Regions from separate parts of the Homo sapiens genome. Here region 1 is linked to region 2. The links come from fine-mapping of genetic effects on plasma protein levels. Region 2 holds a variant in brackets. A gene starts in the other region. All regions are shown on their reverse strands.

Region 1 (14,767 bases), not on the chromosome of region 2:
TCACTATTCATAACAGCCCAGCACTTAAAATTAGGACAATGCCCATCAATATGAAGAAATTTTGGATGAATAAAATGTGGTGTATTCACACAATGGAATACTTCACAGCAATGAGAATGGATTAACTATAACCCCTTATGATATGGATGAATCTCATAAACATAATTTTGAGTGAAGAAAGCCTGAGACAGTAAATACTGTATGTGGTAGGCAGATTTCTAAGTGGTCCTCCAAGATTTCATGACCCTGGTGTACACAGACCGTCTCCCAGTTATCCAATCAAACACTAATCTAGGTACCACCATAAAGGAATTTTGCACATGTAATTAAAGTCCCAAATCAGTTACCTTAAAATAGGGAGATTATCTAGGTGGGCCTGATTTAACCACATGAGTTCCTTTAAAAGCAAAGTATATTCCTGGACTGCTTGCAGAATCAGAAGTCGGAGAGTTGAAGCTTGAGGGAGACTGATATGAGAGAAATTCTCTGTTGCTGGCTTGAAAGTGGAGGAGGGCTTGTGACAAGGAATGTAGATGACCTCTAGTTGTTGAGTGTGACCCCTGGTTGACACCCAACAAGAAAATAGAGACCTCCGTTTTTTAACTGCAAGGAAATGAACTCTGCCAACAACCAGTGAGCTTGGAAGAGGACCCCAGGCCCCAGATGAGATCACAGCCCTGGCTGATACCTTGATTTGAACCCCATAAGCCCCTAAGAAGGGAATCCACCCACACCGTGCCTGGATTTTTGACCTACAGAAACTCTGAGAATAGATCTGTGTTGTTTTAAGCTGTGGTATCTGTGGCAATTTGTTACATAGCAATATAAAATTAATACACTCTGTGATTTGATTTATATAAAGTACAAAAGCAGGCCAAACAAATCTATGCTGATATAAATCAGAAATAGTGGCCACTGGTTGGGATTTGTTGACTGGAACGGGGCACAAGAGAGGCTTTTGAGGTGATGGCAGCATTTCTTGGTATGAGGGCTGATTACATAGGTATGTTCAGTTCATGTATGTTTCATCAATTGTACACTTATGTTCACTTTTCCAAGTGTATATTATAGTTCAATAAAATATCAAAAGCATACATCCAAAACATACATTTTCCTTTTCAAAAAAAACCCACAAAAACAACATTCTTTATTTTAATATGTGTATTCATATGTGTACTTGGTTACAATAAAGGCCCTCCAACATACAAAACAAACTGAAAACAGCAGCTACCTCAGGGGAAGGGAATGGAATTGTATGGGGGTCAAGAGGAATTTTTGCACCTTCTATGATATTTGAACATTTACAAAGAGTTTCAGTCAAGCCTTACTTGGGTTATTAAAAACATGAAGGCAGAAAAGTATTAAAACGTATGTATAAGCTGGGCATGGCGGTTCACATCTGTAATCCCAGCACTTTGGGAGGCCAAGCTGGGAGGATTGCTTGAGCCCAGAAGTTCTAGAACAGCTTGGGCAACACGGTGAAACTCTGTTTCTACAAAATATACAAAAATTAGCCAGGCATAGAGGCATGCACCTGTAGTCCCAGCAACCCAGGAGGCTGAGGTGGGAGGATTGCTTGAGCCCAGGAGCTCAACACCAGCCTGGACAACATGTCAAAACCCTGCCTCTATGAAAAATACAAAACATTGGCCAGGCGTGGTGGCATGCACCTGCAGTCTCAGCTACTCGGGAGGCTGGGATGGGAGAATTGCTTGAGCCCAGGGAGGTCGAGGCTGCAGCGAGCCATGATTGTGCCACTGCACTCCAGCCTGGGCAACAGAGCGAGACCCTGTCTCAAAAAACAAAACAAAACAATGAAAAATAATAACATCTGTATAGATCCAATGATGTATTTGAACAGGGTAATTCTTGTCTAGATTGGATATAAACATTCACCTAGGGCTGTGATTTGAAAGACATTAAGAAGTTCCCAGACATCTCTCCTGCTTTGTTTAATAACAGTAACTGCCATTTGTTGGATACCCATTCTCTGTAAGGGCCTGTAAAAGGCCTTTTATGTATATTATCCTCTAGCTTTACATGCATACCTTACAAGGTTGTTGATTAGTATCATACCTATTGTACAGAGACAGAGGAGGAAACTGAGGCACTGGTAGGCTAACTGCTTGCCTAAGGCCACACAGTTAGTAAAGAGCAGAACTGAGTTTCAAATCCTGGTCTGATCCTAGAGGGTGTGCTCTTTGTATTACAGTTGCCTGCTCCTTTAATGGTCTTATTGACTCTTACCCTGGTATAAATTATTCATTCATTTCATTCTAAATGGAACTTTGGGAAAGGGAATCCTCTGAGTCCCTCACACCACGGTGGAAATGAGTGTTCCTCAGGTTACATTTTCCCTCATTGGCGTTGCAGGGCACCTCCAGGTATGGTGGGAAGTCTGGGAGAGTGGGTCTAATATAGAAAGATGCTGTGTCCCAGAAAGGGTAGACTCAGATGCTTCTCAATGTTCTCCAAGGGTGACTGGCTGCTCAGAGTTACCCAGTATCCCCCTGGGGGCTTGGCCCAGCGTAGTTTCAAGCCACAGGCTTTGTTATGTGAATTTCAGCTTGCTCTCAATATGATCCCTCCTGTAGAGAATATATTAATAACCTTAGTGCAAACACTGTAGACATGGAAAGTGAAATCCAATCCCTGCCCAGGAGATTCCAATCCTCAAGACATAAGGACCAAGCTATCCATCGAATTGCAAAAGAGTTACAATGGAGGCAGCTGACTCAAGCTTGGACTTGACTAAGAATTCACTGAATACCGGGGAGTGAGCCTGAGACCTGACCTCCAGGCCAGCTTTGCAAAGGCACTCCGGTTACTGAGATAAAAGAACAGCCTGTGGCACTGACCAAGAGCCTTTGCAGCAGACTTCTGAGAAAAGGACAGGAAGAGGGCTTGTTTAGAGTACTCTGTTTATTTAGCTTTTTGAGAGTTCTTATATTCTTTTATGTGAAGAATGGTCTGTAAATATTGCTAAGAGGAGCTCCTACCTTGTCATTTCAGACTAGTACAGGGGGTATTGGTGGAGAGGAGGGACAATTAAGCCTGAATCTTCTACCCTCAGTTTGTCTGAGTATTAGATGAACGGTAGTGTTACAAGGCAGAGCAAAAGAATAAAATACATCTTTATAGTGATTTTTTTAGAAGGGTCTCACTCTGTCACCCAGGCTGCAGTGCAGTGGCGTGATCATGGCTCACTGCAGGCTCAACCTCCCAGGCTCAGGTGATCCTCCCACTTCAGCTTCTGAATTAGCTGGGACCACAGGCGTGCCCCACCATGCCCCACTATTTATTTATTTATTTATTTATAGAAACAGGGTCTTGAACACCTGGAATCAAGCAATCTGATCCTCCTGCCTCTGCCTCTTAAAGTGCTGGGGTTACAGGTGTGAGCCTTGTGCCTTGTTGTGAATTTTTTTACATCATACTAATCTCCCTCATCATTTGATGAAATCTATATCAGCTGTTAAGTTTTTGATGAAACTAATGATGAATAAAAATAATTCTCTGTTGATATCCAGCCTAAAATGTCTCTGTTTAGAATGTCATGTTATGAGCATCTAATGTGGATGAAAAATCAAAACTAAACGTATTTCCAGATTACAGCCAACAAAGAAAATTGTCTGTCCTGCATTCTTGCAATCATCCTGGTAAATTATTGTTGTTGTTATTGTGGTTGTTAGTTTGCTATTGCAACAGCATCTTAGCATCTCAGCTGGCATAAGATTTGTCCTTGATAAGTGAGCCAAAAGCTGTTCATCTGGTAATTCATTAGCTGGCTCTCTTCCAGAAGACTCTGGAACACTAAATGTCAGTTTTTGCTTTGACTTGCTACCAACCACTGGCAAGATATAGAACAATGGAAACATTTAGGGTAAAATGCAGAGTGTCTTCTTGTTTAAACTGTGCCTATCCTGGTCCCTCTTCTCCCTGTGAAAAGCAGCTTATTGACTTGGTCTAAAAAAATCAACTATTTGCTCTGCAACTGAGTTGTGCATGTTGACACAGCCCGTACTGTGTTTGTGAGGCTACATACTGCTCTCTTGATGAAAGACTCCGCCATGTCACGCTCTTGTCACTGCAGATTGAGGGTGGAATTTGTAGCTGGGGAGGGCTAGGACACTTTGTATACAACCCTGTGAACAAGGAAGGGACTGATGCCCTGAGTACAACAAGAAAAGGTGGTCAAAACAGTTTCTGTCAGCAAAAGTTCCTCTTTCTGGGACCAAGACAAAAAAGAATGGGTGGGTGGGCAGATTGATTAGCTCCTCCAGGCCCTCCCAATGTTCAGTAGGGAGGCTTTTCTGGCCATTCCAGACATCTGTGAACCATCCGCTGAGTGTCACTGCATTAGAGCTAGTGCCACAGATTAGTCAGTCATTATCCTCAGGCTCTTGCATATTAGGTGTATTATATTTCCTTATATCGATGGTAAGTTCTCTGAGAATGTGGACTAGTCTCTGTTGAAGATATTGGGTACCTGGTAAAATGTAGTTAGTGGAAAGAAAACATTTTAAGTCATAAATTGGCAAGTAAGGGGAAAAACTAACATTTCTTGAGCACCTCTTCTGTCCCAGATCCGTTGTGAGGTGCTGTGGGCATTGTCTGACATTGGTATGTGTGCTTGGGGGAGCTAAGGGAGAGGTCAGAAGTGGCAATTCCACACGTTATGTGACCCTAGCCATGTTTCTTCAGCCCTGAGGGACTCCATTTCCTCATAAATAAAGTGAGGACACTAACAGCAGCCTTGCAGAATTATTGTAAAGATCCAATCAGTGTCTGTGAAAATATTGGGTAAACTGTGAAGCCCTAGACTAAATGTGATTGTTATTGAGCATTATGAAGAATTTTTAAAAATGAAGAAGCCAAGGTCCTAGACTTTCAGAAGGCTATTGTTTAGTAGAGTGGACAAAGTTGCTTGTGACATTTCCCAAAGATAACAGTGTCAGATCATGCGGGTGACATCCCAAGGTTGTGTGTGTATTGAGTTGTCTAGTCAGCAGTGTCTTCATCTCTGCTTCCCTCTTTACTAAAATTCAGGCTTTGGGCTCTCTATCTTCTTCACTGCTCTCAGAGCATGTGCATGACAGCATGTGTCCATGTGTGCTCACACACGCACACACACAATCCCTCTCTGTCCAGCTCTCCTGCCTGGGATGAGGATTATCTAAGTCTCTTGACATTGTATTTTGGAACAGGATGTCTCATATTCTCCAATCAAACTCAGACACCCTGGAGCTGGATGATGATCAGGGAGACATTAGAGTTATTATTGGCTCGTGACTTAGATAGATCTGGGTTCAAGTTCCACCTCTATAATTCCTAGTTGTGTGGCTGTAATATGGAACTCCAGTTTACTCATTTGTAAAGTAAGTACAACAGAAGTAACTATCTCATTGGGTTGCTGGCAATGCTAATTGAGATAGTGCATGCAAAGCGTTTAGTACAGTATCTGACATACAGCAGATGTTCAGTGTTCAGTATGTGAGCTACTATTGGCACTATTTGCTAACCATCCTGAGGTCAACCTACAGGAGACACCACTATAGCCAGCCATCCTGATCACTGTGCAGATCTTTGAAACTGGCACCCTCGACAACAGGTAGACCCCTCTCCCCATGCCTGTTGCATTTCTAACCCCTTGTTGAGCGCTACCAACCGCATTTTGTCTCTTCTCATTGGGGATTTGAATATCATCTTCTGCTTCAGCTAAATCTCCCACATGATGATAACCATTAAGGCAACTTTCTTCAGTACAGAAGATAAATATTCAAAGTGCTTATTACCAAGTTCATTTCCCTCATCTGCTCTAATGCTGTAGCTTTCTGCATTTTTATGCCATTTTGTGAAATGTGGATCTTGAAAATACGTATTAAAGAAGCAAGTCCTTTCTCAGGTTTTACTATAAAGCCCAGTTAAGGGCTTTAGGAGCCTCTGGTCTGGCTCTTTCTTATTAAAAATTAATTTTCATTTAGTCTGTGACAAGTATGGCTTCTCTAAAGTAATTTCTCTTTTCCTGGATTATGCTTATAAGGCATTTCCTTTCCAGCCCATTTGAATGACAAATAAATCCTTTTCCTGGGAGCAACTTTGGCCTTGAAGCCTGCTTCCTTCAAATTCTCCAGGTTGACCTAAGATATAATTTTCAACTCTTGTATTTTAGTATTCAGAACTAGGACTCCCACAGAGACCAGTCATGCAATGGGTGTGTTCCTCTCTTGCTGAGATCCCAGAGTATAAACATAAATGGGAAACTGTGGGTCAGGCAAGGCCATTTTTGTTTTTATCATTACCGTTATTAAAACCTACCTTAGGCTGTTGTGTTAGCTGGAGGTCACTTCTTTATTTTTATTTTGAGATGAAGTCTTGCTCTGTTGCCCAGGCTGGAGTGCAGTGGCATGTTCTCGGCTGACTGCAGCCTCTGCCTCCCAGGTCCAGGCGATTATCCTGCCTCAGTCTCCCAAGTAGCTGGGATTATAGGCACACACGACCACACCCAGCTAATTTTTGTATTTTTAGCAGAGATGTATTTTAGTAAAGTTTCACCATGTTGACCAGGCTGTTCTCGAACTCCTGACCTCAGGTGATCCATCCACCTCGGCCTCCCAAATTGCTGGAATTACAGGCATGAGCCGCTGCGCCTGGCCTTGGAGGTAAGTTCTTGACATGACTTTTTCCCAATCTTTCAGCCTTGACTTTACCATCCAAGTCAGTAGAGGCCCAGAAGCCTTATTTTCAACTTTCTGTCTTATCCCTATGATCTGAGAAACTTTGCTCCTCATTTAAGTCCTTCTTCCGCTTTTGTGACTCAGTGACTAACTGGAGGGTCATATTTGGTAGTGTATCTTTGCTGACACAACAGCCAGAAGAGAGTGGTGTCCCTCCCCAGCCTTCTCATTAGCTAGCATAGCTCAGATCACATAAGGCTCCTGCTGGGAGGGGCTTTCCCGGTCATCTAAGGCAGCCCCTCATTTTACGAAAGTTGGCAACTAAATCCCAGAGACATCAAGTGACTCACCCAGGGTCACACAGTGAGCCAGAGGCAGAACTGGGACTCAAACATTGTTTTCTTGGCATCCCACTTGGTGCTTTTTCTACTCTGCCACTGTGAACTGGTGCTGCCAGCCCAGGGCTCAGTTGATGGGGCTTGTTCAGCTAAGGCTCAAGCAGGATGAATGCAAACTTGACCTTGTTTTTTAATCCCAACTGCTGTGGTTTGACTAGTTGCTCAAATGGAAACCCCTCCGGCCAGATCAACCATTAACTTTTGAAGTGAATGGAGCTTAAAATTAGTGTCAAGAGTTTAAAGTAGGGCTCGCCCCGTAAGCTCTCCTCTTTACTTACCTATAGCTCTCTATCTCAGCTCTCCAAGCATCTCCTCCAGTGCCCTATTTTCTGTGTTTCCTAGTATCCCATGGGAAGGACCATTCATTAGGGTTAAGCAATGCCATCTCCTCTTTTCTTGTTGATATATCTTGGAAGGGGACACGTGTATTTGTCCCATCCCTCAATGTGACACAGTGGATCAGAGGCTTTCCTCCTCCATGGGACATGAGCCAGGAGAGCACTAGAGAGACATGGAGGGAGGGTGAGAAAAGACTGCAGATAAAAAAATAGGATGTGGCAAAGCCAGCCTAGGACAAAATTAGGCCCATAGCCAGTTGCCTGTCATTAAGTATATGTGTGTTGCTACTGTGAAGATATAACAAAGATATCAAATCAAAGACATTGAGTCAAAAGAGGCGGAAAAAAGCAAGCATTTTCTGAAGGTCTGCTTTTTCAAGAACTAGACTAAGTGTTCTCAGTAGATTATTTTAGTTAACTCGCATGACAGCCCACTGAGGTAGCCATCATTAACCTCATTTTCATGGATGAGAAAATTGAGGTTCTGATGAACTCACAGAGCCCTAATTAAACCCCACAGGGCAGTGTGCTCTCCAAACCTATGCTCTCTTCTCTTTAAAAGCACTCATTTGAGATTGGATTCCTCTTTACTATACCCCTAAACCAGCTTTTTGGAGGTACCTGGTCAGGCTACTTTCTTCTTCTTCTTTTTTTTTTTTTTCTCTTTTTTTGAGACAGGGTCTCACTCTGTCACCCAGGCTGGAGTGCAGTAGTATGGTCATGGCTCACTGCACCCTCAATCTCTCAGGCTCAATGGATCCTCCAACCTCAGCCTCCCGAGTAGCTTGGAACCACAGGTACATGCCACGACGCCCAGCTAATTTTTTGTATTTTTTTTTTTTTTTTTTTTTTTTGTAGACACGGGGTTTCACTATGTTGCCCAGGCTGGTCTCAAACTTCTGTGCTCCAGCGATCCACCTGCCTTGGCCTCCCAAAGTGTTGGAACTACAAGTGTGAGCCACCAAACCGAGCCCAGGATATTTTCTAAGAGTGGAAACTGAGGCCCAAAGAAGTGAGATGACTATTCCAGGAACAGTCTGGCCTGCTGCCTATGGTTGCTAGGCCTTGGCTTATTGTAGCTTTAAAAGCCCTGCATGAGCTGACTCTTCCATTCGTTGTCAGTGAAAAGTGGGAATTTTGGCTGGGCACAGTGGCCCATGCCTGTAATTCCAGCACTTTGGGAGGCCGAGGTGGGTGGATCACCTGCGGTCACAAGTTCGAGACCAGCCTGGCCAACATGGCCAAACCCCATCTCTACTAAAAATACAAAAAGTAGCCAGGCATGGTGGTGCATGTCTGTAATCCCAGCTACTTGGAGGTTGAGGCATGAGAATCGCTTGAACCCAGGAGGTGGAGGCTGCAGTGAGCTGAGAACATACCACTGCACTCCAGCCAGGGTGACAGAGTGAGACTCCATCTCAAAAAAAAAAAGGGAATTTCACTGCTAGTGAAATGGTGGGAACCCTTCATCAGTAGAGGGCCGGTCATTGGGCTGCTTGTTCACAGGGTTGGGTCTACTATGAGCCCCATTCCAGTGCTTATCCTACCTTCTCAGCACATATTCATTTAGCATATACAGCACCCTGGCACCTCCTTTTTTTTAACTCCTTGAGCCCCACGTTTTGTTAGGCTAGAAAAATAAAACTCAGTGTTCTGTGGGGGAAACTAAATGACTATTGAGAGTGATGCATATAACACACCCAGCCTGTTTATAATATTAAAGCCTGAATTGCCGGACAGTGTTTTCATTAAGTACTGCTATTCATTCCGTTTGGAGAGACACGTAAGAACAGAAACCAGTCAACTCAGTAGTTTGCATGCCTTCCATCTTTGTGACAGAATTGCCTATTATTGAGAGTATGAACGTTTTCACAAAATGAGAGACAGCTAGAAAGCCAGGGTTGAAGAGAATGCTCAGGATGAGGGGAAGGCATAATCTATGCTTTCTGGAAAGAATGTCATGCTTTCTTTAATATGAAGTTTCCACTATTTCTGTTCTAATTTGAACAGGGTACCCTGCTGTCACCCTTGTAATATGGGCCCAGAACAACTGCAGCTGCTGCTGGCCTGGTGGGATCCAGTGATGCAAATGCCACAGAATGCAGGTAGAACCAGGTCTAAGTCATTCCCCCCGGGCTAAGGCCCTGAGTCTTTGGCAGTCCTTCAGCCTTTGAGGAAGACAGTAAAGGTAAACATGTGACAAGGAATGTCAGATCAGGGAAGTGCCTCTTGAATCACAAAGTCAACCTTGCCATCTCACAGATAAGGAAGTTGAGCCCAAAAGTGAGCAAGTGGCTTCCTCAGGGTCATATATATATATATATAGTCTCATTAGTGTCAGAGTCAAGACATGAGCCCAGGTCTCTGGACTCCCAGGCCAGTGCTCTTGTAACTACCTCCCACTGTTGTCTCAGATTACAGGAACCAAATGCATGTCTGGCCTTGTGCTGCTTCGCATGCAAGCCAGGCTGACCTTTATGCTCCCAGAATCATCAGCCTTTTCATTGGAAACCATGGAAGGACGGTTCTGGGAAAATAATGAAAATCATACCACACCATAGAGACAACCAGAAGCCCTGCTCAGATGACAGAGTTCTCCTCGCCTTCCAGGTACTGAATCCCAAATATATGCATACACAGCAACTCCAGTTGGTGTTAGAATTAAGGAGATGGAAAACCGAACACTTGACAGTTCGGCCAGTTCTCTTCCCTTTTTTTTTTTTTTGCCTCCTACCCCCAGTCTTTCCCCAAAAGGCCAAAATCTAGAGCATTTGAGCCTTTGTCATTCACTGCCTGAGAGGAACTGGCTCCTGGGAGCAGAGACCAGCCGAGATTACAAGAAGCCTCTTCAACATGCAGCCAAGGCCCAGCCTTGGCCTCGGGAGAACATGGCTCTTGGGACACACGTAGGAAAAATTCCCTGCTTCTCAGCAAAAAGCCTCTTCAATCCTGGAGGGATCTTCTGAGGTTTGTGGGACTCCCTGCTCCCCACAAAGACTGTTTTCTTATACTTCCAGGAGCCCTGATATATGAATTCCTGTATGAGAGATTCATTTCTTTGTTCCTCACAGCATGAGGGGGTGGAGGAAGGGCTTCTAAATGCAAAAATCCTAGTGACATATTATATCTCAGAAACTGAACTTTACAGCCCCACCTTGTCCCTCTTGCTCTGCAACTACCAACCTCACTGGCCCTTTCTCTGAAGGTTGGACTGTGAGTGTGTGTGCAGGTGTGTGGACACCTTCCTTTTCACAACTCAAATGAGTAAAACCTGACTTTTCCCCCCGTACTGTTTACCACCTCCCCCTTCCCTCCACCCAAGGCACTTTCTTGTGTTCCAATGCCACTAATCCCTCTTACAGTAGAAACTCCGTAGTTTAGCTGCTGAGGGCTTGAATTTGTGACCCACCTGTTTCAGAAATATTTTCCTAGGGACCCAATGAATGCCATTACATACAAAGGTGGTGTAATGGCAGGGAATCTTTATGCGACACCATGAGGAGAGCCACCTATTGGGTAGGCTAAAGAGGTTGACTGCAGTGAGTGGCCAAGCAGAAGGCAGGGGCAGCTGGCAAGCAGAGCTCCGGGGCCACCCCCATAGCTTCCCACTACCCTGGCTCACACCCTAAGCTGCCCTCAGGGGGAGCAGGCCTAGGACTACCAGCCTGGGCACCAGGGGAGCTCTTGGGGAAGCTGAGAGGTCAACCTTGTAAGTTACTGCATCTGGCTTCTTCGCACAAGTTCATTGGGTTTTCAGAGTGTTCCTGGAACCTCAGGACAGGAGATGCCTGGAGTGCTAGAAATTCAGGATTCCCAAAAAATCCACTATCCCTTATGTCTGCAGCTGGACAAAGGGTCCCTCACGGTCCCCAGTAGGTTTGGGGGCACGTAGAAGTCTAGCCAGGGCTGGGAATTCTAGGGGGTGGTAAAGACAGGGTGCACAGCCACAGAATTGCCTGAGAACGGCCTGTTCCTTATTTGGCCTGTGACGCAGTTGGCACATTGAGCTTAGAGCAACAGGTAAACACAGCCTCACATTTGGAGTGGCCTAAAGGTTTCTACATTTCATCCCCACGGTGACTCAGTTGGTCAAAACAGGGGACATAATTGGTCCTATCTTACAGACAAGAAAACTGAGGCTCAGGAGGGGCAAGTGATTATCCCAGTGCTGCCCAGGGACAGATTTCCCAGGACTTCTGGACTATTCTTAGGCTTGCCGCTTCATGGCATAGATAGAACAGGAAACGGATGGAGCAGAGCTCAGCAAGGGAGATACTGGGAGAGCCTGTCTCCAGGAGGGACATGCCCCCACCCCAGGACTCAGCTCGTGGTCTGCATTCTCCCACTCAGTGGCCCCAGTGCCAACAGCACTGCTCAGAAACACTGCTGCCAACCGGTGCCCCTTCTGTAGCAGTGGGACTGGAGGGAGTTGCACACTCAGTCACGGAAACACCAGTGTCCTGATGTACAGCAAGCCCCTTTGATCAATCAGATGGGGACAGACTGACTCCTGAGTTCCCAGGGTCCTTTTCCTGAAGGAACATCCATTCTTTCCCTGTTAAACCCTGCATTCCTGGTCCAGCAGCAGAAAAGAGCCTTTCGGACACTGGAGCTTGAGGAAGATCTGTGCCTATTTATTAGAGAAGGTGGTGTTAGTATCAGGAAATAGGTGGATGGTGCTGGGTTTCTTGGGTTCAAACCCTGGGGCTCTGCTGTGTGACCTTGGGCACATCCCTACCCCTCTCTGGGCCTCAGTTTCCTCATGTGTCACATTACCTTGGATTAGACGGTCTCACTCTGATGGAGTTTTTAGTTATGTATCCATTCATTCAACAAACCTTTTATGAGTCAAGCCCTCCTGCAGGCACAGGGTTTGGTACACAGGATTCAGCAAGAAGACAGTCTGTGCTCTAAAAAAGGTCAGATTCTCATTCTGTAATGCTTTTTGGTCCTGCTGTCTTTTTATCATGCTGACTTACCTTTTCAGAAAATGCCCCCGCTTCCGCTGGAGAATGGAAATTGGCAAAGAGAGACGGAAAAGCTCCAATTTGCGCCTTTGCTATTTTAGGAGAGGTTGAAATTACGAGCCAAAGTGGAGTGATGCGCTAAGCGGAGTGACCTCCGTACTCCAAGAAAAGAGAAAACCCAGGTTCTCTGCTTGTGAAGTGGCTCGAGCTCTTAGGCGTGAGGCATTATTATATAAATTCAAGCTCGCTCGTGATCCTTAGTACCCTGAGTTGCCTGAAGGGGGGAATGGCACTGCCTGCGTGTGCAGTCCGGGAGTTCGAGCCGCCGCGGCAACCGGAGCGAGGAGCGCCCGTCCGCACCACCTGTCCCCGCCGGCATTCCAGAGTAGAGGCCGAATTGGCAGCGAGCCGGCCCGGGTCGGTCGCCGCCTCAGTTCGCGCGGGCCCTCCTAGGGGTGTGTCTCACGGATTCCACACCCGGCCGCTCCTGGACAAGCCCCGAAAGGCGTCTTCTTCCCTGGCGGGAGCCGCGTGCGCCCCGCTTTTCGCGCTGCTGTCCCGGGGCCGCCGCAGGCGGATGCACGTCCTCAGGCGACGCTGGGACCTGGGCTCCCTCTGCCGGGCCCTGCTCACTCGGGGCCTGGCCGCCCTGGGCCACTCGCTGAAGCACGTGCTCGGTGCGATCTTCTCCAAGATTTTCGGCCCCATGGCCAGGTACGTTCTAGGTGAAAGCGGGGTTCGCGCTCCCAGGCCAGGGCGCGAAGGTGCTGTACGGGGAGGGAAGGCAGCCGCGGGGGGTAGAGAAGGGCGTAAAGTTCCAGCTGGCCATTGGTGGCCCGGCTAGGGTCTCCGGAGGGGTGCGGCGCGCATTTGCCCACGCCGCGGCTCCGTCGCTACTGTTCCGCGGGCACCGGCAGCGCAGCGTCTCCGATAGCAAGTCGGGCTGCCGGCCGGCTCATTCCCCCAGGGTAACTCTGAGCCCCCGGCTCCGAGCTCCCTCGAGGCCGCCTACCGGGTGGGCAAGCGGGCGCGGGCGCCGGCAAAAGGAGGGCTTCGGGGCATGCGGGGAGAAACCCGGACAGAGGTGTGCGCTCCAAAGAGGATAGGGGCAGAAGAGCCCGGAGAGTCCGGCGGACGAAGCGGGATGGGGATGGGAGCGGGAGCCACCGAGAGTGGAGCGAGACACGCGGGGGCCCGGACTGGGGGCGTGAGTTGAGGAGTGGGGCGACTGGGCCCGGAGGGGTCCCACTGGGGCTAAACCCCGTGGAGGGGCTCCGGGGAGCTCCGGAGAGCTCTGGCGGGGGGAGGGGGCGAACGGCCCGCGGGAAGGAGTCGGGGTGGGGGTGTGTGTGTGCCGCAGAAGCCACAGCGCTGAGCCTGCCGGGAAGGAAGGAAGCGGGGAAGGGAGCCGCCGCCGCAGCCGCCGCCGCCGTGGAGTACTCGGTGCGGAGGGGAGGGGGAGAGGGGCGCAGCAGCGGCTCCAGGGGAAGGGGGCGGTGCGGGGGCACGACGAGCGCGGGCTGAGCTGCGGGATTGACGTAACGAGCTTGGGTTTCCCCCAGCGTCGGGAACATGGATGAGAAATCCAACAAGCTGCTGCTAGCTTTGGTGATGCTCTTCCTATTTGCCGTGATCGTCCTCCAATACGTGTGCCCCGGCACAGAATGCCAGCTCCTCCGCCTGCAGGCGTTCAGCTCCCCGGTGCCGGACCCGTACCGCTCGGAGGATGAGAGCTCCGCCAGGTTCGTGCCCCGCTACAATTTCACCCGCGGCGACCTCCTGCGCAAGGTAGACTTCGACATCAAGGGCGATGACCTGATCGTGTTCCTGCACATCCAGAAGACCGGGGGCACCACTTTCGGCCGCCACTTGGTGCGTAACATCCAGCTGGAGCAGCCGTGCGAGTGCCGCGTGGGTCAGAAGAAATGCACTTGCCACCGGCCGGGTAAGCGGGAAACCTGGCTCTTCTCCAGGTTCTCCACGGGCTGGAGCTGCGGGTTGCACGCCGACTGGACCGAGCTCACCAGCTGTGTGCCCTCCGTGGTGGACGGCAAGCGCGACGCCAGGCTGAGACCGTCCAGGTGAGTGCGCGCCGGTAGTCGAGCGGGACCCGGGCCTAGGCGGGCGGAGGGCTGGGAGGCGCGGCTGGCCCAAGCCGGGGACCTAGCGCGCACCCTGACGCCCGGGCGTTTGCACCCCGGCTGGGCAGGTGCTGGGCGCCCAGTAGCGCACGTTCGCCGCGCTGTGGCGGCCACAGAAAGGCTTTCCGCTCCGGCCCCGGACTGACCGTCTGTCTGTCCGCAGGGTGGCCTGCGTGATGGTTGGCAGAGCGTGCGGGGGAGGCGGCCGAGCGGCCGGAACGGGGCCGCTGGGACGGGGCATCGTAC
Region 2 (15,520 bases):
TAGACTTCAAATGCAAGTGATCTTGATGCAGAGGCAAGAATTAATCTTCACCCTGAAACTTCAGGTGTATTTTGAAAGTCAGTGTTCTTGAGGCCGGGCGCAATCACTCACACCTGTAATCTAGCACTTTGGGAGGCCAAGGCAGGTGGCTCACCTGAGGTCAGGAGTTCAAGACCAGCCTGGCCAACATGGTGAAACCCTGTCTCTACTAAAAATACAAAATTAGCTGGGTGTGGAGGCACACACTAGTCCCAGCTACTCGGGAGGCTGAGGCAGGAGAATTGCTTGAACCCGGGAGGCGGAGGTTGCAGTGAGCTGAGAGCGCGCCTTTGCACTCCAGCCTGGGTGACAAGAGCGAAACTCTGTCTCAAAAAAAAAAAAACAAAGTCAGTGTTGTTTCAACAGTGTGGCGAAAGAGAGTCTTAGGAGTGTTCATCAACAAAAGATTCATCCAATTTTAGGGTGAATAGGAAAGTTGAGAGCTCTCACTCTCCAGATTTTCAATTTGTGCTTTTGGGAATGTCAATCTGAGGCTTGCTTTTCTGGGGTCCATCCTCCACTCATTCTCAGAAATGGAAAACAGGTCCTACCCTGCTTGACTACGAAAACCGCAACCCTGCAGTTGGCCAAGGGAGTGGTCAAGCTTTGGGGATTTGCAAAGGCGGTCTAGTCATGTCCACATTGTGACACTTCTGGCCATGGGTGAGTCAGGTTAAACTGACCTTGCCCCTTCACTATTTCCCTTCTCGTGATTGTGGCAGAAGGCTTGGTGGGGACTGTCCTGGCAGTTCATTCCTGCCAGTGGCCATCTTTAGAGCTAGTCCTACTTACAGCATGATCAGTCCCAAGAAGGGTGTTTTTTCTGTACTGTTTGCAACATGTAACAAAATTGCTTATGAAGTTCAGGTAGCCTGTTTTCAGTCCTCAGAGTCCTTTCCCCATTTTTTCTTTCTTGGTTGCTTATGTTTCCTCAAAGGGTAATTTTAAAAATTAAAATCGTATATATTTCACTACAAAAGTGATAAAGATTCCCAGAACATTTGGAAAAAACAAAAGTAAAAGTAGGGGCTAAAATCCTTCCACCAAATTCTGTTATTACTAGTGCATTTCATTCTTTTTTTTCTTAATATACGTAGGGCTATTTTTTTTTTAATTAAGGAAAAAATGTAAGGCCAGGCACAATGGCTCACACCTGTAATCCCAACACTTTGGGAGGCTGAGGCGAGAGTATCGTTTATGCCCAGGAGTTTGAGACTGGCCTGGGCAATATAGTGAGTCCTTGTCTCTACAAAAAATTAGCCAAGCGTGATGGAGTACACCTGTAGTCCCAGGTCCTCCGGAGGCTGAGGTGGGAGAAGAGCTTGAGCCTGGGAAGCAGAGGTTGCAGTGAGCCGATATCATGTCACTATACTCCAGCCTGGGCAACAGAGTAAGACCCTATTTCAAAAAAAGGAAAAATGGGGCCAGGTACGGTGGCTCATGCCTGTAATCCCAGCACTTTCGGAGGCCAAAGCAGGTGGATCATCTGAGGTCAGGAGTTTGAGACCAGCCTGGCCAACATGGTGAAACCCCGTCTCTACTAAAAATACAAAAAAATTAGCTGGGCATGGTGGTGCGTGCCTGTAATCCCAGCTACTTGGGAGCCTGAGGCAAGAGAATTGCTTGAATTTGAGAGGCAGAGATCGCAGTGAGCCGAGATCACGGCACTGCACTCCAGCCTGGGCAACAGAGCAGGACTACATCTCAAAAAAAAAAATGTTTTAAAATGCAAGTTTACACTTTATATATATATATGTGTGTGTGTGTTTTGAGACAAGATCTTGCTCTGTCATCCAGGCTGGAGTGCAGTGGCACAGTTACAGCTCACTGCAGCCTCAAATTCCCTGGACACAAACAATCCTCCTGCTTCAGCCTCCTAAAGTGTTAGGATTACAGGCATGAGCCACCATGCCTGGACAATTTGTGTTCTAAATTTGCACTTGACTAAAGTTCTTACCGTATACTAATGTAAATGCTTCATAAAGATCATTTCCTTTTCTTTTCTTTTTTGAGACGGAGTATCACTCTTGTTGCCCAGGCTGGAGTGCAATGGCGCGATCTTGGCTCACTGCAATCTCTGCCTCCCAGGTTCAAGTGATTCTCCTGCCTCAGCCTCCCGAGTAGCTGGGATTATAGGTATGCACCACGACGCCCAGCTAATTTTTGTATTTTTAGTAGAGATGGGGTTTCTCCATGTTGGTCAGTCTGGTCTTGAACTCCCAACCTCAGGTGATCCGCCCACCTCGGCCTCCCCAAGTGCTAGGATTATAGGCATGAGCCACTGCACCCGGCTATAAACATCATTTTCAGTAGCTCAGCTTTAAACATCTGCCCAGCGGACATAGTTCAGTTTACAAAGCATCTTTGAGTCCATAAGTATGTTGTTCTTTGCTGTATGCAGGAATTTAATGCCATCACTAGATGCCAGACCGTGTGCAAAGGAGTATTTAGAAAATGCCGTGATGACTACTCTATGTTCTATTTTCGATATACATTATTGTGAATAGATAGATGACTGTACTCCAGAAAATAACCCTGATTTGGGACAATGTAAGCTGGTTTGCCATTTCCTGAAATTATGCTTGACGTAGCTACTGCCATTAGAAACACCAAGCTGTTAGAGGCCAGCTGAGTTATCCAAGGCCAGGGATGCAGTGGCACATTTCCTCCTCCCATTCCAAATCTCAATGATTCGTCATGGAAATGCCTGGATTTGGGTTTTGAGGCCGTGGTCAATCATCAGTAAATACTGACTAAGAACGTAGGTAGATGGTGTAGTGGCTTGCTGCTGCATACTCATTCCAGGGCTGAGGACTGGAGATCAGCTTTACAAGTCTAAAATTGGGATTGATGCTGGGTGCAGTGGCATGTGCCTCTAGACCCAGCTACTTGGAAGGCTGAGGTGGGAGGATCACTTGAGACCAGGAGGTTGAGGCTGCAATGCACTTTGGTCCAGCCTGTTATAGTCACTGCACTCCAGCCTGGAACTCTAAATAAATAAATAAGGATAAAATCAGGATTGATCAGGTTCAGAGAAGAAGATACAGATTCACATGAGACCTAGTCGAAATTATAATATATTAATTTATAATGAGAACTATAACTGCCCAAGATACTCAAGGTGACTGCTCAGCACATGCTCCCTTGCATAGGAAGCTGAAACCAGTGTGTTTTCTGTACTGGGGGCATAAAACAGGGCAAATGGAATCATGCAAGTGATATGTGAATAATATTGTCATTGGGGTGGGACAGTTTTGTCTCTGGGGATATATCTGCCTACAGGGGCCCATTCTCCTAGCAGCCTGTTGGGGCCCTGCCCCTCTATTTTGGTTGGCTGCAGAATGGAACAGATCCTTCCTCTCTGGTATCTTGTAGGGCCTTTGCAGCCATTTACCTGCTGTTCAGAAGCTGTTCTGAGATTTTTTTTTTTTTTTTTGAGGCAGAGTTTCGCTCTTGTTGCCCAGGCTGGAGGGCAGTGGCACGATCTTGGCTCGCTGCAACCTCCGCCTCCCAGGTTCAAGCGATTCTCCTGTCTCAGCCTCCCAAGTAGCTGGGATTTACAGATGCCTACCACCACTCCCGGCTAATTTTTTGTATTTTTAGTAGAGACGGGGTTTCAGCATGTTGGCCAGGCTGGTCTCGAACTCCTGACCTCAGGTGATCCACCCACGCCTCAGCCTCCCAAAGCGCTGGGATTAGAGGCGTGAGCCACCAGGCCCAGCCTGTTCTGAGATTTAGTAAGGCTTCCTTCACAGGCAGGCATGCCTGGATTGAATTTCCAAGGCCAGTTCTGGCTTTCACCAGAGAGACATCCTGTTCCTTCTGGGGCCTTGTTCAGATAACTAATCCTGTCCCTCGTGTAGACTTGAAGGGTTTAACTTCCAGAGGGCAGCCTGATTTCCAAATTCCAGGGATGTCACCCATCACCCATTACAGAGCTGATGATTTTAAGTCAGAATTTCAAAGAGGATGTGAGGCACTGATGACAGGCAGATGGATTTGCAACTGGTGCCAGGAATAACCTGTATAGCCCTCATGGTCCTCCACCAGTGAAGGTTCTGCAAGCTCTTGGAAGTCTTGGTTTTTTGTTTGTTTGCTTTTTTGAGACAGAGTCTCAATCTGTCACCCAGGCTGGAGTGCAGAGGCATGATCTCAGCTCACTACAACCTCTGGGTTCAAGCAATTCTCCTACCTCAGCCTCCCAAGTAGCCGGAATTACAGGTGCATGCTGCCACGCCTGACTAATTTCTGTACTTTTAGTAGAGATGGGGTTTCACCATGTTGGCCAAGCTGGTCTTGAACTCCTGACCTTAAGTGATCCGCCCGCCTCGGCCTCCCAAAGTACTGGGATTACAGGTGTGAGCCACCATGACCGGCCAGAAGTCTTGTTTTTAACCAGAACAGTTGCTATGCCATAGCTCTTGGACTTGAGGCCACTGAGCCTGAATTACATACACAGTAGATAACCTGAGACCAACCCTCAGTTGTAAATATGCTCATAAAAATGACAAGGCACAGTGTTGCCCTGAGCAGATTTTATGTGTATCGATTGGATCATTGTGTGATAATACTTATCTAAAAACGCCTTCATTCATCATTCCAGCAGCTAGTTCAACTCCTCGAAGAAGATGGGGTGCTCCAAAGCAAACACTCATAATTATCAACTAGCAAAGCTGACATCTAGTATTCTGAGAAAATTCCTCCCTGCTCACATGAGGACTATCACGTGGGTCCTGTAGGGGTTCCTCAGGATTTCACAAAGGGGTCTAGCGTCTGTTACATGCACAGTCACACCTGCCAGATTTGAATCTCCTGCACAGGTACGGTGGCAGTTACAATTGGAGCTTGTACGGAGCTCTCCAGCTTACCAAACACATTCACACCCACCATCTCTTTTGATCCTTGCAACAGTTGCCCTGTTTGCATTGTGATTATGGTTATCTTTATCATGATTCCCACTTCGCAGCTGAGAACTGAAAGGCAGAAAGGATGCATGGTTTGGGCAGAGTTATGCAGGTAGCAGAAGGTAGCACCCAGGTCTCTGGAGTTAAAGCCTATGCTGCTGCAGCCTGCTGAAATTAGCCCCCGGGGAGGGCACAGTGTTGCAAAGAGGCTTGGCTGTGAATTTCCAAATGCCATGTGAAGTTGGACACCAGCGTCTGTTCTCCCTCCCATTCATTACCCTGCAGGCTCTTTGCTCCCAAAGCTCTGCTACTCTGGGATAAAGACCAATTACAAAACAGGTCTGTTTATACTCAGTGAGAGGTGGGTGAGCTTGAACAGCGTGAACTTGACATGAAGGGAAGGGCTGGGCTGGGCTGGGCATTCCTTCGTGTCTCTTCCAAGGAGGGGGATGCAGCTGGCCTGCAAGTCTCTTTCCGCGATCTTCTTGCACATTTCTTTTTTTTTTTTTTTGAGACAGAGTCTCACTCTGTCACCCATGCCGGAGTGCAGTGGCGCGATCTTGGCTCACTGCAAGCTCCACCTCCTGGGTGCACGCTGTTCTCCTGCCTCAGCCTCCCGAGTAGCTGGGACTACAGGCACCTACCACCACGCCCGGCTAATTTTTTGTATTTTTAGTAGAGAGGGGGTTTCACCGTGTTAGCCAGGATGGCCTCGATCTACTGACCTCGTGATCCGCCCGCCTCGGCCTCCCAAAGTGCTGGGATTACAGGCATGAGCCACCGCGCCCGGCCTCTTCTTGCACATTTCTTATTCTCTCTCTCTCCCTTACACACACACACACACACACACACACACACTCTCTCTCTCTCTCTCTCTCTCTCTCTCTCTCATTGGGCATTTATTCTGAGCAAAGGACTTCCAAAAAGACATTTGGTGAGGGGTGAGAGATAGAGTAGTAAGCAATGCAGGCAGGATCCTTGCCTTCACTAAGTTTATGAGGAGCCAGAACAAATAAATAAAAAATTTAATAAAACACATGATTAGGATAGTGTTGGCCGGGCGCGGTGGCTCACGCCTGTAATCCCAGCACTTTGGGAGGCCGAGGCGGGCGGATCACGAGGTCAGGAGATCGAGACCATCCTGGCTAACACGGTGAAACCCCGTCTCTACTAAAAATACAAAAAATTAGCCGGGCGAGGTGGCGGGCGCCTGTAGTCCCAGCTACTCGGGAGGCTGAGGCAGGAGAATGGCGTGAACCCCAGGGGGCGGAGCCTGCAGTGAGCCGAGATTGCGCCACTGCACTCCAGCCTGGGCGACAGCGAGACTCCGTCTCAAAAAAAAAAAAAAAAAAAAAAAAAAAAAAAAAAAAGGATAGTGCTATGAAGGTTCGGCATGGATATCATGCTGGGTCCTGGTTTGGGCAAGTGAAGGGAGCCATAGCAGGAGGGCCTCTTGGAGTGGCATTTAGCTAAGACCTGGAGGATGAGTAGGCTTTAGGGTGGCAAACAACCAAGGCTCCTACATTTCCAGAAACCCGGGACCAAGGGCAGCAGTCACTTGCAGCTTGGAAGGTGGGCTGGGGCTGGACTCATGTGGAAGCTTTGTTTGCATACCAGGCTTACTGTTTCTACTTAGACTGTGTTTATGTGTGTGTGCAGTTGGGGTTGGGAGCATTGCTGTTAAAAGTGCCTCACTTTGGCTGGGAATGGTGACTCACGCCTGTAATCCCAGCACTTTGGGAGGCCAAGGCAGGCAGATCACCTGAGGTCAGGAGTTCAAGACAAGCCTGGCCAACATAGTGAAAACCCATCTCTACTAAAAATACAAAAATTAGCTGGGTGTGGTGGCGGGCACATGTAATGTGCTACTTGGGAGGCTGAGGCAGGAGAATTGGTTGAACCTGGGAGGCAGAGGTTGCAGTGAGCCGAGATTGTGCCATGACACTCCAGCCTGGGCGACAAGAGCGAAACTCCATCTCAAAAAAACAAAACAAAACAAAAAGTGCCTCACTTTGGGGCTGTGCTGCTACAGGCCAAGAAGGGGAAAAAGAATGTTCAGTAGCAGAGACCCTGGAGCGAAGAGTTTGGCTTCTTCAAAGAACTGACAGAAGGCCAAGGTTACCCAACCAGGGGTGCAAGGAGGAGAATGCTGGCAGACAGGGCTGAGAGGCTGGTGGCGGAGGTGGTTCTCACTGGGACTGGAATTATCCTCACTCAAATTAGAGGGGAGGGAGCACACAGGACACTGACCTGATCCAATTTTTTTTTTTTTTT[TA/A]AGATCACTGGCTGTTGTATGTATGGATGATGGATTAGAACAGGGCAAGAGGAAATGAAGTAACCTGCTGAGAAGCTGCTGTTATGATCCAGACAAGAGGGGCTGGTGCATTAGGATGGGGTGGGGGCAGTGCTGGACAGGGAGATAAGAAGTGGCTGTTGGCTGGGCGGGTGGCTCGCACCTGTAATCCCAACATTTTAGGAGGCCGAGGCAGGCCGATATCTTGAGGCTGGGAGTTGGAGACCAGCTTGGGAAATATGGCAAAACCCCTTATTTACAAAACATACAAAAATTAGCTGGGCATGACAGCACCCACCTGTATTCCCAGCCACTGGGGTGGCTGAGGTGGGAGGATCACCTGAGCCCAGGGAGGTTGAGGCTGCAGTGAGCTGTGATCCTGCCACTGCACTCCAGCTGCTTAGGCAACAGAGTGAGACACTGTCTCAAAAAAATTAAATATTAAAAAAAAGCCGGGTGCGGTGGCTCACGCCTGTAATCCCAGCAGTTTTGGAGCCCGAGGCAGGCAGATCACGAGGTCAAGAGATCGAGACCATCCTGGCCAACATGGTGAAACCCGTCTCTACTAAAAATACAGAAATTAGGCAGGTGTGTTGGTGGGCGCCTGTGATCCCAGCTACTTGGGAGGCTGAGGCAGGAGAATCGCTTGAACCTGGAGGCGGAGGTTGCAGTGAGCCGAGATCGTGCCACTGCACTCCAGCCTGGCAACAGAGTGAGACTCTGTCCCAAAAAAAATAAATAAATAAATAAGTGGGCCGGGCATGGTGCTCACACCTGTAATCCCAGCACTTTGGGGAGGCCGAGGCAGGCGGATCACGAGGTCAGGAGATCGAGACCATCCTGGCCAACATAGTGAAATCCTATCTCTACTAAAAATACAAAAATTAGCCAGGCATGGTGGCGCATGACTATAATCCCAGCTACTTGGAAGGCGGAGGCAGGAGAATCCCTTGAACCAGGGAGTTGGAGGTTGCAGTGAGCCAAGATCATGCCACAGCACTCTAGCCTGGCGACACAATGAGACTCTGTCTCAAATAAATAAATAAATAATAAATAAATAAATAAAATTTACAAATGGCTGTAAGTGGTATGTAAACTGAAACCTGAATTCAGTGCTGTTGGTGCAGGGATCCTCATCTTCTGCAGAGGGAAGACTACCCCTTATTTACTGGAACACCAAGGCTGGACACCATTCATTCAATCATCAACACATTTTTATTGTTGCCTCCTATGTGTCAGGCGCTGTCCTAGGCACCAAACAAAACAAGCAAATCCCAAGCTTTCATGGTGGGATCAAACAAAATCAATACCTTAATTGTAGGATATTAGATGGTGATGTGTGTTAAAGAGACATAGCAGTAAAGGGGCTGGGGGTGCTGGATGAGAGAGAGGGAAGGTTTCAATTTTTTTTTTCTTTGAGACAGAGTCTTGCTATTGCCCAAGCTGGAGTGCAGTGGCGCGATCTCAGCTCACTGCAACCTCTGCCTCCCAGGTTCAAGTGATTCTCCTGCCTCAGCCTCCCCAGTAGCTGGGGTTACAGATGCCCACCACTACACCCAGCTATTTTGTATTTTAGTAGAGATGGGGTTTCACTATGTTGGTCAGGCTGGTCTCAAACTCCACACCTCAAGTGATCCACCTGCCTTGACCTCCCAAAGTGCTGGGATTACAGGCGTGAGCCACCACTTCTGGCCAGGAAGCTTTCAACTTTAAATTGGGTGACCTGAGAAAGTGACTAAGACTTGAAAGAGGTGAGGAATAGAGCCTTTAGATAGCTCCTTGGATGGAGGAAGCAGCAAGTGCAAAGGCCCTGAGGCAGGCCTGTGCTTGGCGTGTTCAAGGAAAAGCAGCTGGAGCTGAGTGAGTGGGAGGGGTGTGGTAGGACATGGGCTTAGGATGAGGGCAGGGGCCAGATGCTGGGGTCTAAGGACTTTGCCTTTTCCTCCCAGTAGAAAAAGAATCCTCTTAGGCCAGGCACGGTGGCTCACGTCTGTAATCCCAGCACTTTGGGAGGCCAAAGCAGGTGGATCACCTGAGGTTAGGAGTTCGAGACCAGCCTGACCAACGTGGTGAAACCCTGTCTCTATTAAAATTACAAAAATCAGCTGAGTGTGGTGGCGAGCGCCTGTAATCCCAGCTACTCGGGAAGCTGAGGCAGGAGAATCGTTTGAACCCGGGAGGCAGAGGTTGCAGTGAGCTGAGATCATGCCACTGCACTCCAGCCTGGGCAACAGAGTGAGACTCCATCTCAAAAAAAAAAAAAAGAAAGAAAAAGAAGCCTCTGACCGGCTAGGTGCAGTGGCTCATGCCTATAATCCCAGCACTTTGGGAGGTTGAGGTGGGTGGATCACGAGGTCAGAAGTTCAAGACCAGCCTGGCCAAGATGGTGAAACCCTGTCTCTACTAAAATACAAAAATTAGCAGGGCCTGGTGGCGGGCGCCTGTATTCCCAGCTACTCGGGAGGCTGAGGCAGGAGAACTGCTTGAACTCAGAAGGCAGAGGTTGCAGTGAGCCGAGATCGCAGCACTGCACTCCAGCCTAGGCGACAAAGCAAGACTCCTTCTCAAAAAGAAAAAGAAGCCTCTGGAAGGTTGTGAACATGGGGTCACATTATCTGACTTGGGTTTTTCTAAAGTCACTGGGTTGCTGTGTGGAAAATAGTCTGCAGAGGGGCAAAGGCAGAAGCAGGGAGACCAGTTAGAAGATTAGTAGTGCAATCATCCAAGGGAGAGATGAGGGGGGCTTGAGCCAGGAGGCTCGCAGTGGGGTGCTGGCAGGTGGTTGGATTCTGGATATATCTTGAAGGTAGTGACCGTGGGATTTGCTGAAAGATTGGCTGTGGAGTGTAAGAGGAAAGGGAGGAATCAAGGATGACTCCAAGCCCGAGCTACTAGATTCATGGACTGGTCATTAACTGAGATGGGGAAGACTGCAGATGGAGCATTTAGGGGCAAGGAAGTCAGGGGTTCAGTTGCAGACACGCTGAGGTGGAGATGGCTGTTAGGCATCCCAGTGGAGATGGAGCCGCCAGAGTGGCTGGGGAGAGCTCCAGGCAGGGCGAGTACATGAGGGAGGCGTGTGTGTGTGTCAAGCAAATATATTGGGAGATTGACAAGTGGATGAGTGTAGACAGAGAAGAGAACACAAGGCCTAAGCTTGGGATTCTCCACCATTAAGAGCAGACAGAGGAGGACTAATTGGTGAGGTAGAAAAGACAAACCAGGCCGGGTGCAGTAGCTCACACCGGTAATCCCAGCACTTTGGGAGGCCGAGGAAGGTGGATCACTTGAGGTCAGGAGTTTGAGACCAGCCTGGCCAACATGGTGAAACCCCATCTCTACTAAAAATACAAAAATTATCTGGCGTGGTGGCAGGTGCCTGTAGACCCAGCTACTCAGGAGGCTGAGGCAGGAGAATCGCTTGAACCCAGAAGGCAAAGGTTGCAGTGAGCCAAGATCACGCTACTGCACTCCAGCTGGGCCACAGAGTGAAACTCTGTCTCAAAAAAAAAAATTGCTGAAAAGTATCCCATTGTCTGCAGATACACACTTGTTTGTTTGTTTGTTGAGACGGAGACTCATGGGATTACAGGCGTGAGCCACCACACCTGGTCTTAATTTTTTTTTTTTTCTGAGACAGAATCTAGCTCTGTCACCCAGGCTGGGGTGCAATGTCACAATCTCGGCTCACTGCAACCTCCACCTCCTCAAGCTATCCTCCTGCCTCAGCTTCCTGAGTAGCTGGGATTACAGGCACATGCCACCACATGCGGCAATTTTTTTTTTTTTTTAGTGGAGATGGGGTTTCGCCATGTTGGCCAGGCTGGTCTCGAACTCCTGATCTCAGGAGATCCACTCACCTCAGCCTCCCAAAATGCTGGGATTACAGGCATGAGCCACTGCACCTAGCCCCACATTTTCTTTCTTTTCCTTTCTTTACTTTACTTTTTTTTTTTTTTTTTGAGACAGAGTCTCACTGTCACCAGGCTGGAGTGCAGTGGTGTGATCTCGGCTCACCACAACCTCCGACTCCCTGGTTCAAGCGATTCTCCTGCCTCAGCCTCCTGAGTAGCTGGGATTACAGGCACACGCCACAACGCCCAGCTAATTTTTGTATTTTTAGTAGAGACGGGGTTACACCATGTTGGCCAGGATGGTCTCGATCTCCTCACCTCATGATCCACTTGCCTCAGCCTCCCAAAGTGCTGGGATTACAGGTGTGAGCCATCGCGCCCAGCCCCAGCCCCACATTTTTAAATCCATTTGCTAGTTGGACCTCTGGATTGTTTCCCAGTTTTGAACTATATCTAATGCTGCTATGAACATTCTCGTGTAAGTCTTTGTGTGGATGTATATTTTCATTTCCCTTGAGCAGAGTCCTAAGAGTGGAATTACTGGGTCATATAGTAAGTTTATGCTTATTTAATCTTTTAATAAATTGCCAAACTGTTTTCCAAAGTATCTGCACCATTTTACATTCTCATCAGAAACGTAGGAGGGGTTCCATTTCTCCACATTGTTGCCAACAGTTGGTATTGTCCTTTTTAATAGCCTTCTAGTGGGTGTACACTGGAATCTCATTATAATCTAATTTGCATTTCCCCAAGGACTAATGATATTGAGCATCTTCTTGTGTACTTGTTAGTACATAGGTAAGAATGAACTTAGCGTCCTCCAGTCTGCATTTCCAAATGGGCAGGCAGGTGGGTAGGGTTTATATTTTCCCAGATGAGGTCATGTGATCCCTCTGTGGATGAGATCAGCGCTGGCTCTGAGGAGATCCTTGGTGTCTACCTGCAGGAATCTGAAATGGTAAAGAGAAGGCATCAGGTGTACTTGCGGCTGGGTGCAGTGACTCATGCCTGTAATCCCAGCACTTTGGGAGGCCGAGGCCGGTGGATCACTTGAGGTCAGGAGTTGGAGGCCAGCCTGGCCAACATGGTGAAATCCTGTCTCTACTAAAAATACAAAAATTATCTGGGAGTTGTGGTGCCTGCCTGTAATCACATCTACTTGGGAGGCTGAGGCAGGAGAATCGCTTGAGCCCGGGAGGCAGGGTTGCAATGAGCTGAGATCATGCCACTTCACTCTAGCCTGGGTGACAGAGCATGACTCCATCTCCAAAAAAAAAAAAAAAGTGTACTTGCATGTTGGGGTCTGCAGATGGGTGGAGTCATCTGCCCTTTCTTTTCCCCAAGAAACCAAACTACCCAGGGAGGGACACCCAGAATTGCCTCAATGAAGCAAGCCACCCTGTGTAGGAGACACTCACTGGGATTCTGTGAAATAGGGGGCCTGTGAGAGCTGGAAAACAATGTGGCAGCTGTCTGGAATGGAGGCCAATAGTAACTCAACTGGGCTGTGGCAGAAGAAGGAAGGCATTGGGCTGTGTCTGATCAGAGCCTGCGATTTTTCCATCAGTCCTAAACTGGCGTTTGCCTTCTCTGTTCACATCTTTGGGATCTGCCTCCTCTGTCAGTCCCCTAAGCCTGGCACTTCTGTGGGTAGAGCTCCTCTTCAAATGCAAATCAGGTCTCTTTGCCCACCCGCACTCATGAACTTTTTCATGGTACTTAAATGTGCTGCGCTCTCTCCACCTCTCTTTTCCCTGATAACCTTTATCCCTGTGCATTAGGGTTATGCTAGATGCTGTAACAGACCTCAGAATTTCAGCATTTAACACAATAGAGTTGTTTTCAAATTCTCAAAATGTGTGTGAGCCGGGTGCAGTGGCTCACACCTTTAATCCCAGGGCTTTCGGTGGCTGAGGAAGGAGAATTGCACTTTGGGAGGCTGAGAAGGGAGTATGGCTGGAGCCTAGGAGTTGGAGACCAGCCTGGTCAACACAGTGAGACTTCATTTCTACAAAAAATAAAAAATATTAGCCAGGCACGGTGGCACACATTTGTAGTCCTAGCTACTTGGGAGGCTGAGGTGGAAGGATTGCTTGAGCCCAGGAGGTTGAGGCCACTGTGAGTCGTGATTACACCACTGCACTTCAGCCTGGGCAGCAGAGTGAGATCCTGTCTCTAAAATAAATAAATAGGCTGGGTGTGGTGCTTCATGCCTGTAATCTTAGCACTTTGGGGAGCTGAGATGGGTGGATTGCTTGAGCCTGGAAGTTCAAGACCAGCCTGGACAACATGGCAAAACCCCATCTCTATAGAAAATCTACAAATTAGCTGGGTGTGGTGGTGTGCACCTGTAGTCCCAGCTTCTCAGGAAGCTGAGGTGGGAGGATCACTTGAGCTCGGGAAGCGGAGGTTGCAGTGAGCCAAGATCATGCCACTGGACGCCAGATGGGGAGAGAGTGAGATCCTGTCTTAAAAAAAAAATTGCAATAATAAAATTCTCAAAACAATCTATATAGCTATTCCAGGTTGTGTGGTGCTAGTGGTATTGTGGAGTTGCTATCTCCCACACTAATATGAAGAAGGTTTGTTCTTTCTCTTTTTTGAGACAGGGTCTCTCACTCTGTCACCCAGGCTTGAGTACAGTGATATGATCACAGCTCAATAGATCCTCAACCTCTAGGGCTCAAGCAATTCTCCTGCCTCAGCCTCCCGAGTAGCTGGGACCACAAGCACACCCCACCATGCCTGGCTGATTGTTTTTTTGTTTTGTTTTGGTAGAGATGGGGTTTTGCCATGTTGTCCAGGCTGGTCTTGAACTCCTGGGCTCAAGGGATCCTCCCACCTTAGCCTCCCAAAGCTCTGGGATTACAGGCATGAGCCACCATGCTTGGCCAGATGTGATTGTTTTACATCAGCAAATAGATTAGATTGCAGTTCCAACTACAAAGGAAGAAAGAAGTGGATCAAATACTGCATAAAGTATATAATTATTTTTATTGAGGCAAAATTCACATAACATAAAATTTGCCATTTTATTATTTTATTTATGTATTTATTTTTTCAGAGTCTGTGGGGCGGGGAAGTGGTCTCTCTTTGTGCTCAAGCTGGTCTTGAACTCCTGGGCTGAAGCCATGCTTCTTCCTCAGCCTCCTAAGTAGCTGAGACTACAAGCTTGCAGCCCAGTGCCCTGCTTAAAATTAGCGATTTCAAGGCTGGGCGTGGTGGCAAGGCCTGTAGTTCCAGCTACTTTGGAGGCTGAGGCAGGAGAGTCATTTGAACCCAGGAGGTGGAGGTTGCAGTGAGCCAAGATCATGCCACTCCACTCTGTCCTAGGCAACAGAGCAAGACTCAGAAAAAAAAAAAAATAGAGATTTCAAAGGGTGGCCATTTCAGTGGCATTCAGTACACCTGCAATGCTGTGCAACCACCACTTCTAACAGGTTCCAAAATTTTTCCATTACCCTAAAGGAATACCCCTTGCCTGTTAGCAGTCACCCCCTACCTCAATCACCCCCGCAGCTCTAATCAACTATCAATCTGCTTCTAACTCTATAGATTTACCTGTTGTCGATATTTCATGTAATTGGTACCATACAATATATGAGCTTTTTTTTTTTTTTTTTTGAGACAGAGTCTTGCACTGTTGCCTGGGCTGGAGTGCAATGGCGTGATCTCAGCTCACTGCAACCTCTGCCTCCCGGGTTCAAGCCATTCTCCTGCCTCAGCCTCCCAAGTAGCTGGGATTACAGGTGCTTGCCACCACGGCCGGCTAATTTTTTGTATTTTTAGTAGAGATGGGTTTTTTGTTTTTTGTTTTTTTTCTTTTTTTTAAGATGGAGTCTCGCTCTGTTGCCCAGGCTGGAGTGCAATGGCACGATCCCGGCTCACTGCAACCTCTGCCTCCTGGGTTCAAGGGATTCTCCTGCCTCAGCCTCCCGAGCAGCCGGGACTACAGGCATGTGCCACCATGCCCAGCTAATTTTTGTATTTTTTTTAGTAGAGATGGGGTTTCACCATGTTGACCAAGATGGTCTGGATCTCTTGACTTCATGATCCGCCCACCTCAGCCTCCCAAAGTGCTGGGATTACAGGCATGAGCCACCGCGCCCGCCCTATATTAGGTCTGGCTTCACTCAGCATGTTTTTGAGCAAAATGTTATAGCATGTATCAATAGTTCATTCCTTTTCATGGCTGAATAAAATTTTGTTGTATTGGCCAGGCACGGTAGAGATTGCCGCCTTGCACTCCAGCCTGGGCAGCAAGAACGAAACTCCATCTCAAAAAAACAAAAAACAAACAAACAAAAACCAAAAAACTTGAACATCAGGCTGGCACGGTGGCTCACACCTGTAATCCCAGCACTTTGGGAGGCCAAGGTGGGCAGATCACCTGAGGTTGGTTTCATGTGCGTCCGTGTGAAGAGACCACC

Which allele goes with the higher level. Alleles are on the strand shown, and positions count from the first base shown. The strength of an association depends on the size of the effect and on how common the allele is.
For the plasma level of the protein whose gene starts at base 12,640 in region 1, TA is the high allele of the variant in region 2 and A is the other (weak association).

Evidence for each region. PIP is the posterior inclusion probability: the model's chance that the variant is causal. The UK Biobank Pharma Proteomics Project read protein levels with antibody pairs (Olink). The fine-mapping took linkage between variants from a reference panel, not from the people measured, so its PIPs are less certain.
Region 1: HS6ST2 starts here. The variant in region 2 is fine-mapped to the plasma level of the HS6ST2 protein (UK Biobank, PIP 0.95).

The regions. Positions count from the first base shown.
Region 1 is chrX:132,956,502-132,971,268 of GRCh38, reverse strand. HS6ST2 (heparan sulfate 6-O-sulfotransferase 2) reads left to right here and starts at 12,640. Exons shown (of 5, transcript NM_001394073.1): 1 at 12,640-13,094; 2 at 13,943-14,461. The coding sequence starts at 12,667. It overlaps LOC124905219 (a long non-coding RNA gene), which reads right to left and starts at 13,834. Exons shown (of 2, transcript XR_007068337.1): 1 at 12,393-13,834. RefSeq lists an enhancer at 12,761-13,261.
Region 2 is chr10:97,339,327-97,354,846 of GRCh38, reverse strand. LOC105378448 (a long non-coding RNA gene) reads right to left here. Exons shown (of 2, transcript NR_188201.1): 2 at 11,644-12,040. Among named protein-coding and RNA genes, the nearest start is that of FRAT2, 12 kb to the right of the region's middle. The variant TA/A (reference allele first, on the strand shown) is at 7,218.